Regions from separate parts of the Homo sapiens genome. Here region 1 is linked to region 2. Evidence: fine-mapped QTL for protein levels in blood plasma. A gene starts in region 2. The other region holds a variant in brackets. All regions are shown on one strand. Distances are from middle to middle. Region 1 has its middle 18 kb from the start of LINC00489. Region 2 holds the start of VSTM2L (V-set and transmembrane domain containing 2 like).

Evidence for each region. A credible set is the group of variants that fine-mapping cannot tell apart. PIP is the posterior inclusion probability: the model's chance that the variant is causal. The UK Biobank Pharma Proteomics Project read protein levels with antibody pairs (Olink). The fine-mapping took linkage between variants from a reference panel, not from the people measured, so its PIPs are less certain.
Region 1: its variant is the best candidate, but not a certain one, in a credible set for the plasma level of the VSTM2L protein (UK Biobank, PIP 0.53).

What each region holds. Positions count from the first base shown.
Region 1 is chr20:37,636,085-37,645,626 of GRCh38, forward strand. No RefSeq gene overlaps it. Among named protein-coding and RNA genes, the nearest start is that of LINC00489, 18 kb to the left of the region's middle. The variant G/T (reference allele first, on the strand shown) is at 5,410.
Region 2 is chr20:37,898,681-37,908,222 of GRCh38, forward strand. VSTM2L (V-set and transmembrane domain containing 2 like) reads left to right here and starts at 4,447. Exons shown (of 4, transcript NM_080607.3): 1 at 4,447-4,791. The coding sequence starts at 4,671. LOC124904896 (a long non-coding RNA gene) reads right to left here. Exons shown (of 3, transcript XR_007067576.1): 2 at 7,939-8,179; 3 at 1-837. RefSeq lists an enhancer at 3,747-4,710.

The DNA.
Region 1 (9,542 bases), 260 kb before region 2:
AACTGGTCTCAGATCTTTCAGCAAATAAGTGATGAAGTTGGGATTGAACCAGATGGCTTAGCCTGGGTTTCCTAAAACACAAAGTCTGGAGCAAAGTGTACATATTTTATGGCAGGTGCAATTCTTAGGCAGCAAGAATAAGGGGGACAGGGTGGCAGATAGAGAAGAATAGGAAGCAAACACAAAGAGCTATGTTTCTGAGCTGGCCGTAGAAACATACCTTTTTGAGCCAATGCAACTGGGTGCTGGGTCACTTGGAGTGGCAGATACGCAAGCCATGTGGAACCTCCCATTTTTGGAATAGTCCATTTGTCTGCGGCTCCTTCCTGGTTCATGGTTGTCAATGTTCCTGATTTGCTGCAAGGAGTGCTGTTACTCAGCCCCTCCAGGAAGCCACTAGGGAAGCCTGATCCCCTGCCCTAAGCATGGTGCTTTATCTGAATGTGAAAGTGGTGGAAAGAGCCTCCCTCAGATCGAGTTGGACCCAGGGGGTCAGCTGCTGCAGCTTGACAGGCTTGATGGGGTGTCTGCAGAAGGCTAGTCCTCACCCGGGGGAAACTGAGGCAGCTGGACTAGAAGAAGAGCCAAAGACAGCAGCCGGGCTCTTCATTGAGCAAGAGGGGACAGGTGGATCGAGTCAATCTGGGACGATACACGAGACCAGGCCTGTCTGATTACAGAACTTACACGCAAGAGGCCAAGCTAAGGCTGGGAAGGTGGGCAGGGGCCAAAGTCCAGAGGGCTTATTGACAGATGGAAATATGGGGCTCTGTCTGCAGGGTAATGAGGAGCCATGGGAGGATTCTCAGCACCTGGCAGGGTGGCTGGCACCAACGGCAACCCAAGAGAAGCTAGATCCCACTGGCGGGCGTGCGCCCAGTGGCCTCATATTGGCAGGGTGTAGGGGGCTGCCCGTCACCCCCCTGCCCTGCCACTTCTCCGAAGCTCAGGTCCAGAGGCTGGCAGTGAGGTGCTGCCCATGACAACTGCAGCGCTCATCCTTCAGCATGACATTGGCACATCACTGGGGGAGTGGAGGGTGACGGAGCACCATTCCGGGTGGTAATGGCTCCAGCGCCAGGAGGAAAATGACATAAATAATATCCCATTAGAGGCGCCGAGCGGCTCCGCTGAGTGCCTTGTGTTGCTGGCAACATTATGGGCTTCATAAACAGACTCATTCATTTTCCACTCGTTGCTCTGGTGGATGGGGGATGGGTGGGCTGCCAGGGAAGGTGACTGGGGGCTGCAGAGGCAGTGAGGGGCAGGAACAGCACAGTCCGCCCCTCCAAGCCTCAACTCGCATGCCTCCAGCTTGGGCCACCAGACTTGCTGGCCCTGTCCACCTCTAGACTTTTGCCCACACGCCCTGCCTCTGCCTGGAACACGCTCTCCCCAGCTCAGTCTTTGGAAACCACACTACTTCTTTCAGGGACTAACTCAGGTTGCTCCTTGGTGCTGGGTTCTCCATGCAGCTTTCCTTAATTCCCAATCCTTATTTTTATTTTATTTTATTTTATTTTATTTTATTTTATTATTTTTTTGAGACAGAGTGTCACTCTGTTGCCCAGGCTGGAGTGCAGTGGTGCGATCTTGGCTCACTGCAAGCTCCGCCTCCCGAGTTCACGCTATTCTCCTGCCTCAGCCTCTCGAGTAGCTGGGACTACAGGCGCCCATCACCACGCCCGGCTAATTTTTTGTATTTTTAGTAGAGACGGGGTTTCGCCGTGTCAGCCAGGATGGTCTCGATCTCCTGACCTCGTGATCTGCCCGTCTCGGCCTCCCAAAGTGCTGGGATTACAGGCGTGAGCCACCGTGTCCAGCCCCCAGTCCTTATTTTTTTATTTTATTTTGAAATGGGGCCTCTATCACTCAGGCTGGCGTGCAGTGATGCAATCACAGCTCACTGCAACCTCTACCTCCTAGGCTCAGGTGATTCTCCCACCTCAGCCTCCCAAGTAACTGGGACTACAGGCACGTAACACTATGCCTGGCTAATTTTTATGTTTTTAGTAGAGCTGGGTTTCAGCGTGTTGCCCAGGTTGGTCTCCAACTCCTAGGCTCAAGTGATCCACCCGCCTTGGCCTCGCAAGGTGCTGGGACTACAGGCATGAGCCACCGTGCCCAGCCCATTCTCCATGGCCTCGAGGCTCCCTTAGCTCTGGTGAGACAGCCTGGCACACTGGAGGGCATCCTGGAGACAGACAACTCTGGATTCAAATTCTGAGCTGGCAATTATAAGTCTGGTGACCTTGGGTTAGTCCTCGAATCTCTCTGAGCCTCAGCTTCCTCTTGTGAAAGGATATCTTGTGAGAGTATCTTACAGGCTTGTCATGAAAAGTGTCTTTTAGGCTTGTCTGGAACACAGTTGATTTTCATAAATAATTGTTCTGCTTGTCCCCTTTACTATGTAGACATTTGAGTTCTCTCCACAAAGGGACCATTGATTTTCTTGTGTCTGTCCCTCCTGGAGTCTAGTCCTGGGCTCCGTGCATGGCAGGTGTTGAAGGCAGGTTTGAGGGTGCAGTGAGAGGAGCTCTGGGTAAAGAATGTAGGGCCCCGGGTCTTGTCCCAGCTTGAACATTGATGAGCTGTGTGACCTTGGGCCAGTCCCTTCCCCTCTCTGGGCCTCTTTCTCTGCAAGGGTAAGACAGAAGTTTACATAAAAGGACACCTGTGGCCCTTCTCAGCTACCACTTAGAGGACCTCAGGCTAGTACCCCATCCCTCCACCTGTCAGGAGGTGGGCTCTGGCTTTCAAGTCAGAGAGAAACAGGCTAGGATCCTGCTCTGCTGTGTGGCCTTGAGCAAGAACAGAACATCTCTGAATCTCACTCAGTTTCCTTGTCTGAAAAATGGAGGTAATACAGCCAGCATTACAGGGTGGTTGTAGTAACTTAGTGAAATTATTGAATCAGTGGTATTCGCTGAACACTTATTATGTGCCAGGCACTATTCACTGTTGGGGATACAATGGTGAACAAGATAAGGATTATTCTCCCCCTTCCCAGAGCTTATATTTAAGTGAGAGAGAGAGAGACAAAAATCAGCCATCACATAAATAACTACATAATTACCAACCGTGCTATATGTTATAAAGAAAAAGTAGGCTAGGCATGATGGCTCACACCTGTAATTCCAGCACTTTGGGAGGCGAAGGTGGGAGGATCACTTGAGCCCAGGAGTGCGAGCCCAGGAGTGCTAGACCATCGTGGGCAACATGGGGAGATCCCGTCTTTACAAAAACTAAAAAATTAGCTGGCCATGTGGTTTACACCTGAAGTCCCAGTTACTCAGGAGGCTGAGGTGGGAGGATCGCTTAAGTTGGGGAATGGTGGCTGCCGCGAGTTGCAATCATGACACTGCACTCCAGCCTGGGAAACAGAGTAGGACACTGTATCTAAATAAAGTAAAATAAAATAAAATAAAATGGAAGTACAGGGTCCTGACCTAGTGCTCCTAGTTATGGAGGGCTTCCTGGGAAGGTGGCACATGAACTGAGATCTTGTTCTGATTATTTATTGCTGTATAACAAATGAACCTAGTAGCTTAAAACTACAATTTTTGTTGATGCTTGTGGTTTCTGTGGATCAGGGATTCAGAAGGGCTCTGCTGTGCAGCTCTGACTCAGGGTCTCTCATGAGGTTTCAGTTAGATGATGGCTGGAGCTGGAGCAGCTGGAAGATGCTGGACATCTCTTTCCTTCTCTGTAGGTGATCTCAGGGATTCTCCATGTGGTCTTTCTGCAGAGGCCGGCTTGGGCTTCCTCATAGCATGGCATCCTCAGGACAGTCATGCTGCTTAAATGTAGCTTAGGGCTCCAGAGCCAATGTCCTTGACCTCCTTCCAGAAGTGTCCCAGTGTCACTTACATGGCATCCTATTGGCCACAAACAAGTCATAGCCTGCCCCAAATCAAGGGAAGGGAACACGGGCCCCACTTCTTCCCAGGACAAGTCTCAAGGTCATATTTTATAAAGAACACGTAAGATAAAAGATGCTGTTGTGCCTATCTTTGCAAAATATGCCCTGCCATAGATCTGAAGGGTGAGTAGGCGTTAAATAAGCAGAGAAGAGAGTTCCAGGCAAAGGGACAGCTGGCACAAAGGCCCTGGGGTGGAAAGAATGTGTGGTTTTGTACTGAGGAAGCACTCAGGGACACAGTAGTGAGTAAGACAACAACCCATAACGTTTGGAGCTTCCATTCTAGTGGGAGAGACAGACAATAAACACACAAAGAAACAAACAACACAATTTCAGGTTGCAATCAGTCCCAGAAAGGGAATACACTGGGTGCCGTGACAGAGTGAGATTGGGAACTGGAGTAGTACTTCAGGCTGGCAAGACCTTTCTGAGGGGGTGGCAATTGAGCTGAGAGCTGCAGATGAGAGGGAGCTGGCCAGCCACGCAAAGGGCTGGGGAAGAGTGTTCGCATCCGAGGGAACAGCATGTGCAAAGGCTAAGAGGTGGAAAAGGGATGGGTGGCATGGTTGAAACTTGGTACGCAAGGGGGCTGGCAGGTGTGACATAAGGATGGACAGGGCGGGAGAGGCCAGGTTTTGCAGGGCTCTGGCAAGGAGTTTGGACTTATTTCTAAGTGTGACAGGGAGCTATTAGAGGGTTTTAAGCAGGAGAGTGATGTGATCTCATTTTGTAATAGAGATCCTCTGGCTGCCGTGGCACTGACTTCTGGGCGTGATGCCAGACTTCCGTTCCTGGCAGTACCATGAATGTGCTGTGTGACCAGAGGCTAGTCACTTAACCTCTCTGAACTGTAAAATGTGAAGAATGGAATATAGTGGGCAGGAAGGAGGGAACCCAGGGAGAAGGCTGTAGCATCATCCAGGCAGAGATGATGGTGGCCTGGACCAAGGTGGTTTCGGTAGAGTTGTTGGTAAGAAATGGGTAGGATCACGACAGACTGGGAGGTAGAATGGACAGAACCTGGTGATTGGATGTGGAGCATGAGAAGGAGGAAAGTACAACCCCCAGGTTTCTGGCAAAGCTTAATCTTATTTTACAGCTCAGAGAGGTTAAGTGACTAGTCTGTGGTCACACAGCACATCCATGGTACCCAGAATTTAGTGCCACCCTCTGGTACTGATACTGAGCCCTTGGCCCTTTTCTCTGTGTCTCCCCTGCCCTACTGCCCCCCATCACCTCCCCTTCTTCCTCCCAGGATGCTGGTGGCTCTGGTTGACGCAGTCCCAGCAGGTGTGCCTCGCCAAGCTGTCGGCATGATGAACAGCTTCCCTTGGCTGAGCAGATAACAGTACACACACAGGTCGGGGGGGCCCATGTAGCCCATCCATCAGGCCCGGGAGTGAGTGGAGGGCCGGCACACCCTCATGCCTGTTATCTGCCACAAATGTGTTTTTCTCCCCAAGGTTAACAGGAAGAGTGACAGCCAG[G/T]TGCCTGACATCAGCAGGGCTGGTGTTCGTAGGAGCCAGCCAGACTCTCTCTCCTTTTCTCTCCCTCAGCGTCTGAAGAGTCCTGGGTGTGGAGACGCTTAGAGCCTCAGAATTGCAGACTCTTCAAGTCTTGAGCACTGAATCTTCGAAACTTAGATGCGTACAATCCTTCATTCCTTGAGGCAGGATTGTGTGGTGGTTAAAAGCGGGGACTCTGGATCCCGCCTAACCTGATTGGGTTGACATCCCAGTTCTGCCACTTACTAGCTGTGTTATCTAAGGCAAACACCTCAGCATCTCTGTGCCTCATTATGAGGGTGGTAATAGTGTAATAGTGTCTAGACCACGGGTGGCCGTGGGGATTATAGGAACTAATCTTTGTATCTAAAGTGCTTAGAACAATGCCCGGCACAGAGCATGTTGCTCATATTGGTAGATATAGAGTTCTTAAAGACACAGAATCTTCAAGTCTAAGTTTTAGAGACACAGAACTTTAAAACCTTTGAATCTTCTTAGGGCCACAGATTTTCAGAATCTTACTATTTTAGGTGATTATGGTCACACCTGCAGTGGCAGCTGCAGGGGTTTTAGGCTTCCATAATCTCTGTCACTTCTTTCTCATTTCATTCACATGGGCAATAGCTAGTTTCTCAATCTTATGTAAAGTGTTCTGCAAATATGGTGGCAAGCCCACCTTCTAGGCAGATTGTGGGCCCCACATAGAAATTCTAGAGTGTCTACTGCACAACACCTCACAGTCTCTATAAATACGTTTATCTAACTATCTACCCAGTCCATCCATCCATCCATCCATCCATCCATCCATCCATCCATGCATCCCTTCATTTATCCATCCATGCATCCTTTCATCTATCCATCTTCCCATCCATCCATCTATCCACTCATTCTATCCATCACCTTCTCACATCTATCAATCAATCTATTGTCTAGCCATCTATATGCATTTCCCATCCTTCCATCCATCCATACATCCATACATACATTCTTCTATCTATCCATCTTTTCATCCACCCATTGATCCATACTTTCATCATCCATCTGTCCATCCATCCATCCATATTTGCTCATCCCTCCTCCCCCATCCACCTATCCCATTTCTCTCTCTCTCCTTCCTTCTTTCTTCCTTTTTAAAATTTTCTCATCCTTCCATCTATCTGTCTATCTATTCACCCAACACTTATTCACTTATTGAGTGTCTATAGCATACAAGGTACTGGATTGGGCTATAGAAGGAGGTCTATGCATTGGCGTCAGTTTCTATCTTCCCTGAGCTTCCAGTCCAGCAGGCCATAGAAGACCCAAACACAAACCTGATAATGCAAGCTTGGCTCTATACAGCAGAGATAAAAAGCCATGCTGAGTGACAGAAAGGGAATTCTCCTTTCTGCTGGGGCCCCTGGGGCAGCTTCATAGCAGAGGTGGTATTTCATCAGGATCTCGAAAGACCCTGTCTTGATGACATTACAAGTGGCTTCATCTTTCAGGGGACTGGGAAGAGAAGCCTGGGGAGCCTTAAACACCATCTGGTTCACCTGGATGACCACTGCTAGGAGGTTTGCTTCCATTTTTTTTTCAAATTTAATATTTTTCATTTTGGTTTAGTGAAGGGGACCAAATGAAAGGAGGTTCCCTTTAAATACCATGTGAAGAAGTGCTGCAATCCCTTCTTGCACACCTCCAGGGCTGAAAAGCTCACTACCAGACAAGGAGAAAGGCCTCTAGAACTCTACTGTGCTCCAGGAACTGAAAGGCACAAAGGGCTCTGTTTGATCTTCCTGACCCCCAGGAACTGTCTATTACTGTTATCTGGGGGGTTGGGGGTAGGAATAGTGCTCTGGACCCAGTGTGTTTGGCTCACATCCCAGCTTCCCATTCATGAACTGTATGACCTGGAACAGGTTACTTCACCTCCCAAGGACTCAGTTTACTCATCCATAGTACGGTGATGGCAATTAGAATACCTCTCATGGGATTGTTACAAGGATCAAATGAGCTAACACATTCATGATGCTGAGTGAATGTTTGTGAAATTATTGCTATTACTGTTTTAGGTGGTTGTATTAGTCAGTGTTGCATCAGGCAGCTCAGTGGAGAGCATGAATCTAGCAAAATCGTGACAGTGGTTTGGAAGAGTTGAAAGTGCAGTGGCTGGAGATTATCAATAGCAGAAAAGATGCTACAGACCATATTCACCATTTGACGAAGGCATCCTCTTTGGACTAGTGGGTGCTGCACAAGTAAATGGGATGCTGTGAGAGAAAGAACCCCAAGACTGGAGGAACAAAGACAGGAGTGATTTTTTTTCAAGACAGGTCTCCTTATGTCACCCAGGCTGGAGTGCAGTGGCGTGATCACAGTTCACTGCTGCCTCCACCTCCAGGTTCAAGCGATCCTCTCACCTCAGCCTCCTGAACAGCTGGGACTACAGGCATGCACCACCACGCCCGGCTAGTTTTTTGTATTTTTTGTAGAGATGGGGTTTCTCCATATGCCCAGGCTGGTCTCAAACTCCTGGGCTCAAGCAATCCTCCTACCTCGGCCTCCCAAAGTGCTCACAGGCGTGAGCCTCCGTACCTGGCCAAAAGAGGAAGCAACGTTACAAGAAAGAGCCCAGGAGTTGGGGCTACCTAGAAGGAGTTGGAACCACAGAGGGAGAGGCTGCCTTTCCAAAGACTAGAAACCAGGGAGGAGATGCAGCTAGTGGAGACCTTGCCCTGAGTAGAGGGAGCAGAAAAATACCCTGCTTCTCCCTCCCTCCTGCCCTGCAGTCTGTATGCACTGTCATCTAGGGAGACAAATCAGAGACAAGGAGGCCTGCTCACCCAGCTTGCAGAGCCCAGAGGATCATTTCCTAGGGTATGTTCCTCATGATCCTATTCTGCAAGATACTTCTTCAGAAAAAGGTTTTTAGGCAAATCAGGCTTGGAAATGCTGTAGGCAAGAACTCTGTCCCGCAGATCTGCCAGGCATGTTACTACAGTGAAGACGAGCAGCAACAGAGTTAAAAAGCCCAGGCTCTGTAGTCAGACTCAGTTCCCTCCTCTATCAAATGGGAATAGTAACAATATGTACTTTACAGGGCCATTTATTCATTTGTTAATTTATTCATTAATTGAGTAGATACAGTGTGTCAGTCTCCAGGGATATGCTGGTGAACAAGACAGACATGGTGTCAGTCCTCAAGAAGCTTACATTCTAGAGGAATATAAGCTAATGAGGTAATGAATGTAAAGTGCTTAGCACACTGCCTGGAATATAGTAAATGCCCAATAAATGCCACCCTTAAAGGCTCTGAGAAGTCCTGCAATGGATACATCTTAAATCCAGGGCTTTCCAAACATATCTGGCCATGAAATCTGCCTCTTTTCCCCCCAATAGTACCCTATTCCTATGCTGCAGCACTCACTGGTCCAAAGAACATATTTTAGAAATGCTAGGTGGGCAGATACGGTCTATACACATACTTATACACAGAGACACACAAAGATACAAATATCAACTACTTCTGGTAGCTAATGAAATATTAATAGGGCTTTGAAGAAATGGGAATAGCTCATCTCTTGTTTCATTTTAAAGTGACCACATTTTGTATAAATCTTGTCTTGGAGGGTAGTAAGTGGAATTCACTTTGATGAGTTTGTTCTGAAAAATACGGAGTCATTAATTAATTGATCCACTCAACAAGCATTTACAGCAGCTTCTGTCATTCTGTGCTGCCTGCGTGGCACTGGGGACACAGTGATTCTAAGGCAATGTGTAGGATCAAGATACGCCCTGTATATTGTGGCAGCCCCAAAAGAGGCCGCCTATGACCATCTGGGAGGGCTTCCAGGAAGAGGCGCTATCTGAGTTGAGTCTAAAAAGGTGAATGGAAGTTTAGCTAGGAAAGGGAGCCCTGTAGAAATGGGTATTCACTGTTCTTGGCCCTGACTCCTTAGGGTCAGAGTCAATTTTAGGTCCAAGAAGGGAGAAGATGGTCTGGCCCCCAGTGGTTTCTTCTCTACTTGTGCTGGGGGCTTGGGGGGTCATGAAAGGAGCACTGGGCTGGGAGTCAGGCAGCCCGGGGAGCAAGTCCAGTGTCTGTCACCCACTACCATGCGACCTTGAGTAAC
Region 2 (9,542 bases):
AGGTGCAACTCCAGGCTTACATTGCTCATTGTTAGGGGCTGATACATTTAAGTAGTTTCTCCATGAATCAGGCAGCCTAGGTATTTCCCCCACTCTTGGCATTGATAGATGAGCAAAAGGAAGCCATTTAGATGGTGCTATATAGGGCTCCAGCCCACGTGGTGAATGATTTCCAATGCCTGGTTTAATTTATTTTTAAATGAAATTTGTTATTGATTCTGGATTAAAAGGACAAATCTTACAGCTGTTACCACTGACAGAGCCACAGTGCTCAAGTGACACCTCTCAAGGAGGGGAGGGAGGGTGGCCTGTCTGAGTCAAGGGGAGGGTATGGAGACTCTCCAGGGAGCTTGGCTCAGCAGTAAGGGGCAGTGCAAGATCCCATGCTTAGAGGGAAGTTTAAAAATATCATCTTTCCCAATTGAAATACTTGACGTGATGCTCACCTCTGAGCCTCATTTATATAATGGAAATAGCAGTGATATTTGCCTCATGGCATCCACACGACCACTAGAGGCATGTTAGTTGCCTCCAGGGATGGGAGGCTTTCCATCTCCTGCAGCATTCCCAGAATGAAATGAGTGACAGGCGTCACCCACTCTAGTGAATTCCTAGAGACTGTTTCCTGGGCTAGTCTTTGCTTACCTTCTGCCTCCACTAGGCTCTCGGCTTCCACGGTGCCCAGAGATTACACTTGCATTGGGAAGCAGACAAGAGGCACAATTACACAGGGGAGGAGGATGGGCTGGGATGTGTCCGTTCACATTCAGCCTCTGCCCTACCTCACTGTGCAACTTTGTGCAGGTTACATCATCTTTCTGAGCTTTGTTTCTCCATCTGTAAAAGAAGGAAGGGTATAATAGCAGCCTCAGGGGTTGTTGTATGAATTATAGGAGATCATGGGTGTGAATGTGATTTGTAAACTGTAAAGTGTAGTTTAGGTGCTGCAGGAAATACAAGTGGGACAGTACAGTATAGTGGGAGGTCTCTGAGTTGGGAGACAAAGGACCTGGATCCAGTTCTGTCATGAGTGGCTGTGTGGCTCTGAGAAAGTGAATTACTTTCTCTGGGTCTTAGTTTCTTAAGGTGCCAAGAGGGTAGGTTGGAATCAAACATATGAAATGTTTGATTGGCTCTGGAATCAAACACATCATGGCCTTGCTATGTCGCTTTAGGCAAAATACCTAACCTTTCTGAACCTATGTCCTCATCTGTAGATATCAAGAACACTAGTCAACATGTATCATGTATTTGCCATGTGCCTGGCATTGTTCTAAGTGCTTTCCATGTAACAACTCATTTAATCCCCACCACCCTGCTGTGAAGGAGGTATTATTACCCTTGTTTTACAGACGAGAAAATTGAGGCACAGGGAGGCTAAGCAACTTGTCTAAGTTTACACAGCTACCAAATGGCAGGATTCAAAACAGAGAATATGGCTCTAGAGCCCACACTTCTAACCACACCATCCTACCCTACCTGGCCTGGTGGTTCTGAGGATTAAGGGGAATAATGAAAGTTCTTAGGGCCATGCTGGGCATACAGTGATGAGCCAACAGAGGCTTGGGGACTGGGAGAAGGCAGCAGGCATTTCTTCCCATGGGGACTCAGGCTGGACCTCGCCCAACTGGGGACTCAGCTAGACAGAGGGGAAGGCATACAAGCACAGGGGAAGCACTGGGAAGGTTGAAGATGTAATGAGGCCAAGGCATGCCCAAGAGAGCACAGGATATGTGCAGGAGGTGAGTCTGGGACCCTGAATGCAAACTAGAGAAGTCAGGATTTCTCACATAAACAGGCCATCAGAGGGTTTTTTTAGCAGAACCATTATATCATGAGCATTTTCTTCTTTTTTCCTTTTTTTTTTGAGATGAAGTCTCACTCTGTCACCCAGGCTGGAGTACAATGGTGTGATCTTGGCTCACTGAAAACTCCGCCTCCCAGGTTCAAGCGATTCTCCTGCCTCAGCCTCCTGAGTAGCTGGGATTACAGGTGCCCACCACCACTCCTGGCTAATTTTTGTATTTTTAGTAGAGATGGGATTTCACCATGTTGGTCAGGCTGGTCTCGAACTCCTGACCTCGTGATATGCCCACCTCGGCCTCTCAAAGTGCTGGCATTACAGGCGTGAGCCACCACACCTGGCCGATCACGAGCATTTTCAAAGGCATACAATCCCTGGATGTCTGTCCTTGAAGGAACCTTGACCTTGTTCCAGGCTTCAAAGAGAAAAGATTTCTGAAGGTCAGCCGGTGGGCTAGGGGCACAGCAGCAATGTGCTGCCATCCCGCCAGACCCCCTTCCTCTGCAGGCCTGAGCAATCTCTTGTTTACTCCTCTTTAATCTCCTCTCCCTCCCTGTCCCCTTGCCTGTGTCTGCTCCCTCCAATCTGTGGTTTAAGAGGAGAAAGCCCGGGTTTGAGTCCCAGTTCTGTCACCACAGTCTCCTGGTGAGGCCTCAGGCTGGGGTTGAAGGAGTCCTGGGTTTTAGTCTGGCTAACATGGTGGCTGCTATGTGATCTGGAGGATTCTCAGTTTCCATATCTTTATGATGGAAGCAGTAGTTCATTTCGCTGGGAGCGGGGTTCAGGGTAGTTAATGAATGAGAAAACACGTGCATAGAGTCCAAGACGCCTGGCCAGCCCAGGATAACCTAAACACCACCTCTGTGTGGGAAGAAAGTGAGAAGTGAGAGAATCAGGCAAACACGGCCCCTTCCTCCAAGGCATGTGGTCCAGAAGGTTCGGGGGGTGGGGGAAGCGGTCGACGCTTGGGACCTGTCCTCGGTACTGAAGGGAGCGCGGGGGCTGTGGACGGTGCTAGAACACAGTGCTTGTAAGTGCGGGACATCGTGGAGGAGGTGTCCTTAGTTTGGAAGGAGCTGGATTGTTGCTGGCTACCACGGGCCCCATCCGGTGTGCTACCCCCCCCCCATAATACTGGAAGGGGGGCGCTAAGACAGAGGGAAGACGGCGAGGGGCTATGTTCCTTGGTCTCTAACCTTGTTCTCAAACTTGGGCGCTGTACACACGGCTGGACGCGGGATCCACCTGTGTTCTGGAGTGGGGAGTGGGCTGTCGGAGGGGTTGACCCTGTTCGACGGGGACGGGGAAGAAAGTCTGAGGGTCTGTCCACGGTGTGAACCCTAGCATCAAAGGGCCAGTTGAGACGCTGTCCACGGTGCCCAAAGGATGGGCCCGGGTGGGGCGGGGGGCGGGGGGCGGGGGGGGGGCTGGCGCTGTCCTCCTCCGTGGTGCTGAAACCGGGAGGACCAGGCTGTGTGAGCAGGGAGGCCTGGGGAAGGGCAAGGGATGAGAGCAGGAGGGACCCCGCCCAGGAGTCAGGGGCCTCGCCCGACTCGCCGTGGGACCTCAGAGAAGCTAATTACCTGATTTCAGGCGCTTCCTTATCTTTTAAATGGGACCACAGTTCCGCCCTCCTGTCTGTCCCATCAGCCCCAGTAACACGGCTTGGGAAGGAACTGGAGGACTTTGTTGGATTCTTGCTCTTGGGAATGGGAATGGTGCCCTATCCCCCTCCCCTGCCACACTCACACACACATACACCCACGCATACGCGCGCGCACACGCACACGCACACACACACTCATGCACACACACACCATCAAGGCTCATTGGTCTAGGGAAGGAGCCTACAGTCCAGAAGGGGGCGATCCCATCCACCACATAAGGTCCAGTATCTTCAAGAGCCAGGAGCCGCAACAACTAACTGGCCTGTCTCTCTCCCATTACAAAGACTCGAAAACTGAGTCCCAGAAAGGGGAACACCGACAATAATAACTACTGAGCTCCTACCACGTAGGCAGCATTATGCTAAGCGCTTTGCATGCACGATTTCGCAAATCCTCACCAGGACCCCCGCAGACAGCTATTACCCCTATTTCTCAGATGAAGACTTCGAGGTTCAGAGAGGGGTAGACACCCGGACGCGATCACACAGCGAGCCGAGGTCGGCGGCAGAGCTATCACCAGGTCCCCTGGGTCTCAGCCCAGGCTCCCACCCTACCTCGCCCTCACCCCCAGCCCCACTGGCCCCTGACCCCGGCCCCGCCCTGCCGGTAAAGTTAGGAGCCTCTGAGTGCGCTGGCCTGGCGGCGGGTGCCCTGGCTTTTCTCCCTCTCCCCGCTGGACGGCATTTCTGTGGCTGAAGCCCGTTGGGTCGTGCTTTGCGGGAACCGCGTCCCTGGGGTGGCTCTCTCCGCCCCATCCCGGCCCCGCCTCCGCACTCGGGCGGGGGAAAGTTGCGGGTACCGCTTTAAAAATCCCAGCCTGGGCAAAACTTTGATGATAAATCAAGCGGCAGATCCCTCCGCCGCCTGCTCCGAGCGGGAGGAGGGAGGGGAGGAGGGAGGGGAGGAGGGAGGCGGGAGGAGGGAGGAGGGTGCGGCGGCGGCGCGGCGTGGCCTTCCGCGGAAGGGAAGAGTCCCGCAGTCGGAGGCGGCCGGCTGGGCGTGCGCTCGCTCCCCGAAGCCGGGGCTGGGCCGGAGCCGGGCGAGGGCTGGGAGCTGGGCCGGGTCCGGGGACAGCGGGCGAGGGGCAGCTGCCGGAGCCGGGCAGCCAGGCCGCTCAGGGCAGGGGACAGCTGGCGCCGGTTCTGCGGTCTCCGGGGCCCAGATGTGAGGCGGCGGCGCCCCCGGCCCGAGAGCGCACGATGGGGGCCCCGCTCGCCGTAGCGCTGGGCGCCCTCCACTACCTGGCACTTTTCCTGCAACTCGGCGGCGCCACGCGGCCCGCCGGCCACGCGCCCTGGGACAACCACGTCTCCGGCCACGGTGAGTTCGGTCGCCGCCCCCGCGGACTTCCCCACCAAACCCCAACCCGGGCCGCGCCACTCCAACTTGGCCGCCCCGGGGCTCGAACCGGCGCCAGTCGTGGCGGGCATCCCGGGGCGCCCCCTGCCGGCGCGGTGGACCCGCCCTGGCACCCTGGCCCTGCAGAGAAGGGGGCACCCGGGGCGCACCCCCGAACCTCCTCCCCACACACTCGCGCGGATACGCACACCTGCATGGCCACACCGATATGCACAGCCGCGGACACACTCAGAGCCACAGTCGCTGCTTTCTCACACTCACAACTCCTACCCTGCACATCTCCACACACCTCAGGTCCCCCTCCTCACTGCAAGCCTTTACACTTATGCCCACTACACACGCACATCAGGCACTGCGCCGGTGGGCTCACTCTGCCAGCTGGCGCACACGCTTCGCCACAACTCTTGCCTGCCCACCTGCAGACACACTGGTGCGCGCGCGCGCACACACACACAGGCACACACATACACACACATGAACACAATTTGCTCACCCACTCCTCTCTGCCCATCTGCCTTTACTCTTCTGGGTTTAACCGCACAGAGGCCCTTGTCCTCTTCCTCTCCACACCCAGCCCTATACCACTGGAAAGGTCCTTGGGGGCAGAAGACCTTGTTTCTTGAGAACTGGTCGCCTGGGGCTGCAGCCTCCCAGTTGGGCGGGTGGCACCTGGTGGAAGCCCCTCAGAGCCACCGGAGTAGTTGGGGTTGCTGCTTGCAGCCAGAGGCATGGGAGTGGGAGTGGAAGTGGAATGCCGGGTGCTTTTGTCTGCCTCTGGGGATGGGCAGGAAGCCGTGCCATCCTTCCATAGGGTACCCCCATCCTCATCCTCGGCCCTAGAGGACTGAAATGTGGGAAATCTCAACTCCAGCCGCTGTGGAAGCCGGGGAGCAGACAAGCATTCCCAGCACTGGCTGGCTGAGTGTCAGAAGCTCCTGCTAGCCCCGAAGGAGCCCAAGTTGGCAGCAGAGTTGGACTGTATGAGCCCGGCAGCTGTGGGGGCTCCCCCTGACCCCTGTGAGCCTGGCTCTGGGATGGAGGCTCGAGCATAGATGAAACCAAAGGAGACCTTTCTTCCATGCAGCCCTTCACTAGACAGGCTGACAGCCTTGTTGGGGAGGCTGCAGCCCCAGTGCTGGGCACTGTGGGCCCAGGGCTGTGGGGAGGTTTGCACAAAGGCCAGATAATTGGATGATTTATTCTGATGGGAGTGAGTGGGGGTAAGGCAGGGTAGATAATCAGGGAAGGTTTTGCTGGGGTATGACACATGAGTGGGATTGCTCCAGTGGAGAGGGGGGCTTCGAAGCCATCCTCAGGGTCTCTGCTTTTTGGGAACCATGACTCCCCGCCCCCTTCTGCCTCACCATGTTTGGTAGTAACTGCTGTGTGCATCATTTACATACCCTTCATGCCCCTCACCTCATTTCTACCGACCTGGCTAGAGCGGTGGTAAATAAGGAAAGGGTTCTTTTGATCCTCAACTTACAGATAGGGAAACCAAGGCTCAGAGAGGTGAAGGAAGTTGCCCAAGGTCACACAGTAAGAGAGTGACTGAGCCAGGACAGGCCCCAGGGTCTGTCAGGCAAAGACAGCGCTTTTTTCCAGGACATTCATCTCCCTGTCAGATTCCCTCCCATTCTAGGGAAACTGGGAATTCCTCCCTCTCCACCCCTCCTCTCCTCGCTCCGCTCAGTCCCTTGGCACAGTTGGAACTTACACTAGGAGGGGTTTCCATGGAGGGCCTTCCCTGAGTTTGCAGTCCCGAGGGGTATGAGGAATGGGACTCTGAGGCTTATGGTCGTTCTGTCCCTAGAGCACCAGACCCCAGGGACTTGGGTGCCAGTCTGTTATTCCCAAGGCCCCAAGGTGGCTCCCCCCCATAGAAAAGCAGGGTCTGTCTGCCCTTTGTGTGACAGTCTCTACCTGTCCCCTGGTGCCAGGTAAGCTGAGGGGGCACAGCTCTGCCCAACCAGCTGTAATCTCCCCTCTGCACCCTGGAAGGTCAAGCTAAGGCCCAGGACAGGGGCTAGATGAGAAGGAGGCACCCCTAGTTGCTGGGGAACCTGGCTTCTCTCCTGAAACCCCCGTGTGGCTCTGGGCAAGTGAGCCACCCCTCTGGGTCTCCCTGTGTCCCTAAAGAAACAAAGAAGCCAGGCTGCTCTGCAGGGGCCAGGCTGCCTTCCCCCGACATTGCCAGGTTCAAAGTCACCAAGTAGTGACTGCCGAGGAGCCCCCACAGCTGCCCCTCTGCCGTGCCAAGCACCCGCCACCACAGGAAGGGTTTGGAGCCACTCACTTAATCACAAAAAGAAACTGTTATTAATGATAGTGAGACGCGGCGAATAAGTGGGTCATGTCTAATAAGCTATTTGTGTTCAGGAGGAGAATACCAATTTGATAAAAGCTGTGTGTGCTGAAAAAGCTCAGAAATTGCTGTTTAGCAGATTGGGGCCTGATCATTTCATTATTCCTGGGCTCCGTGTGTCCTCAGCTGATTCAGGAAATGTGGCCCAGTCGGGAAGGTGTCTCTGTGTCTGGGGGTGGGGGGTGGGGGCTGGAAGCAGGGGCTCCTGGGGAGGGGCACATTGACCCCAAGTGCTTGGTGGCTGCTCACCCCTCCAACTCCATCTGAGCCCAGCCCGGCCGCCGGGCTCCTGCCTTCCACCTGCCTGCCCTGGAGCTTGTCACAGGGAAAGCCTGCGGTCAGATGGGTCAGAAAGGACATCTGTTTTGCTTCCCATCTCCCTCCCACCTCCACTCAAGGTACTTGGAAGAGGGCTTTTTCGAGGTGTGAGGAATGAATGGGGAGCATGTATCTCAAGGAGGCATCAGGCACTGGGAGGTGGGGTGGTGATGGTCCGTGTCTGCACCTAGTAGGTGCTCAATAAACAGGAGTGATTTTGATTTTTTCTTATCAGAAAATGTTAACTCATTGCCCATGGGCACAGCAGGGATGGGAGGAAAAGGTGCAAGCATTGATGAAATGCCTACTGTGTGCCCCGTGCTGCCAAGCCCTTGCCAGTGTTAACTCACTCAGGCTGACCATTCATGCAAGGTTGGTGTTGGAGATAGGAGGAAACTGAGGCTCAGAGAGGGCCAGTGACTTACCCAAGGGTGCTGAGTCTGTACAGAGAGCTGGAAAGCTGTGTTTAAGATGAAGATGCATCTGGCAGCTCTGGGACTGCCTCCTCCAGAACAGCCTTGAGGCAGGCTTGGCCATGGCGTCTTCCTTCTTGTAGCCGTAACCCAAGCTTTCTCCCTTCTAGCTCCTCAGGGAACCAGTAAAGCAGTGGGTTCCACCAAGAGGAACCAGCCACTCAGAAAGGTGGCAAGATCTTGCTGAGGATACCTGTAGGTTAGAAACAGGCAGCTGGACTGGACCCCAGGATCTTTCCAGATCTTGTCCAGGGGAGGGATCCAGAGGGCAGGGTCTTTGTGAAGATCTCTGTAGACCCCTACAGCTTGCAGAGGACCCCTACAGCTTGCAAGAAGCCTCACATGGCAGAGTCCCCCAGGGAATTTTTTACAATGCAGATCCCCCAAACCCGCTGCCAGAATGGTTATTTGATGGGACCCTGGAATGTACATTTTATTATTATTTTTTAATTTCTCTTGAGACAAGATCTTGCTCTATTGACCAGGCTCGAGTGCAGTGGCACAATCTCAGCTTACTGCAACCTCTGCCTCCTGGGTTCAAATGATCCTTTTACCTCAGCCTCCGAGTAGCTGGGAGTGACAGGCATGTGCTACCACCCTCAGCTAATTTTTAAATTTTTTGTAGAGATGAGAGCTCATTATATTGCCTAGGCTGGTCTTGAACTCCTGGGCTCAAGCCATCCTCCCTCCTCGGCCTTCCAAAGTGCTGGGATTACAGGCATGAGCCACCGCATCTAGTGGAATCTGCATTTTAATAAGTTCCCCAGAGGATTCTCATGCAGCCTGGGATTTGGAAGCCACTGCCTAAGTATTTACCCATACCTGGTGGGAGATGTAGGGACAGGAAATGTCTGACGCTATGGACTGGCTTGGTTTGGTTTCACAGGGGAGGGAGAGGTCCAGACAGGGGCAGGTGGATGGTCCCTGAGAGGAGCTCCAAGAAGCCTCACACTGCAGCAGACAACTCCCCTCCCACCCCCACCCTGCCACACACACACACCCCTACACACACACACACCCACACCCACCCCTAGGCCAGCACCTTCAATTATTCATATACCCCAGTGCAGACAAAGATCCTGGCTTGGCCGGGGGCTTTGTCCATTGAGTGATTCACTGTCCTGAGATTCTCTCTGTTGCCAGGAGGGACCAGCAGGGTGCTGGGGGAGGGAGGGGGCACCGGGCCATTTGGCAAGCAGCCTGTGCACTGAAAAATGACTCTGGCTTCCTCGCATTCCTTACTGAACTGTTGGTATCTCACCATCAATAAGCTGGCTAGTTTGGTGGCTGGAAGATGAAGAAAATTGAGTCCTGTCTTCCAAAGGTTATGATGTTAAAAATGTGTTCGTCTTTGTCTCGGGCGTTGGTGATTATTCTATCAATTACGCCTGTAAACACTCTGCCTTGGGCTGAGGGTTTCCCGGCCTCCTGTGGGGAATTGGCCCTCACAAGCGGTTTTCCCCAAGTCCTTCACACCAATTGGTTTTGACACCTTGCCCATCAGCAGCTCCTGCAGCCTTTTCCCCAAACAAGAGAAGCCGCAGGCGGCCAGCAGG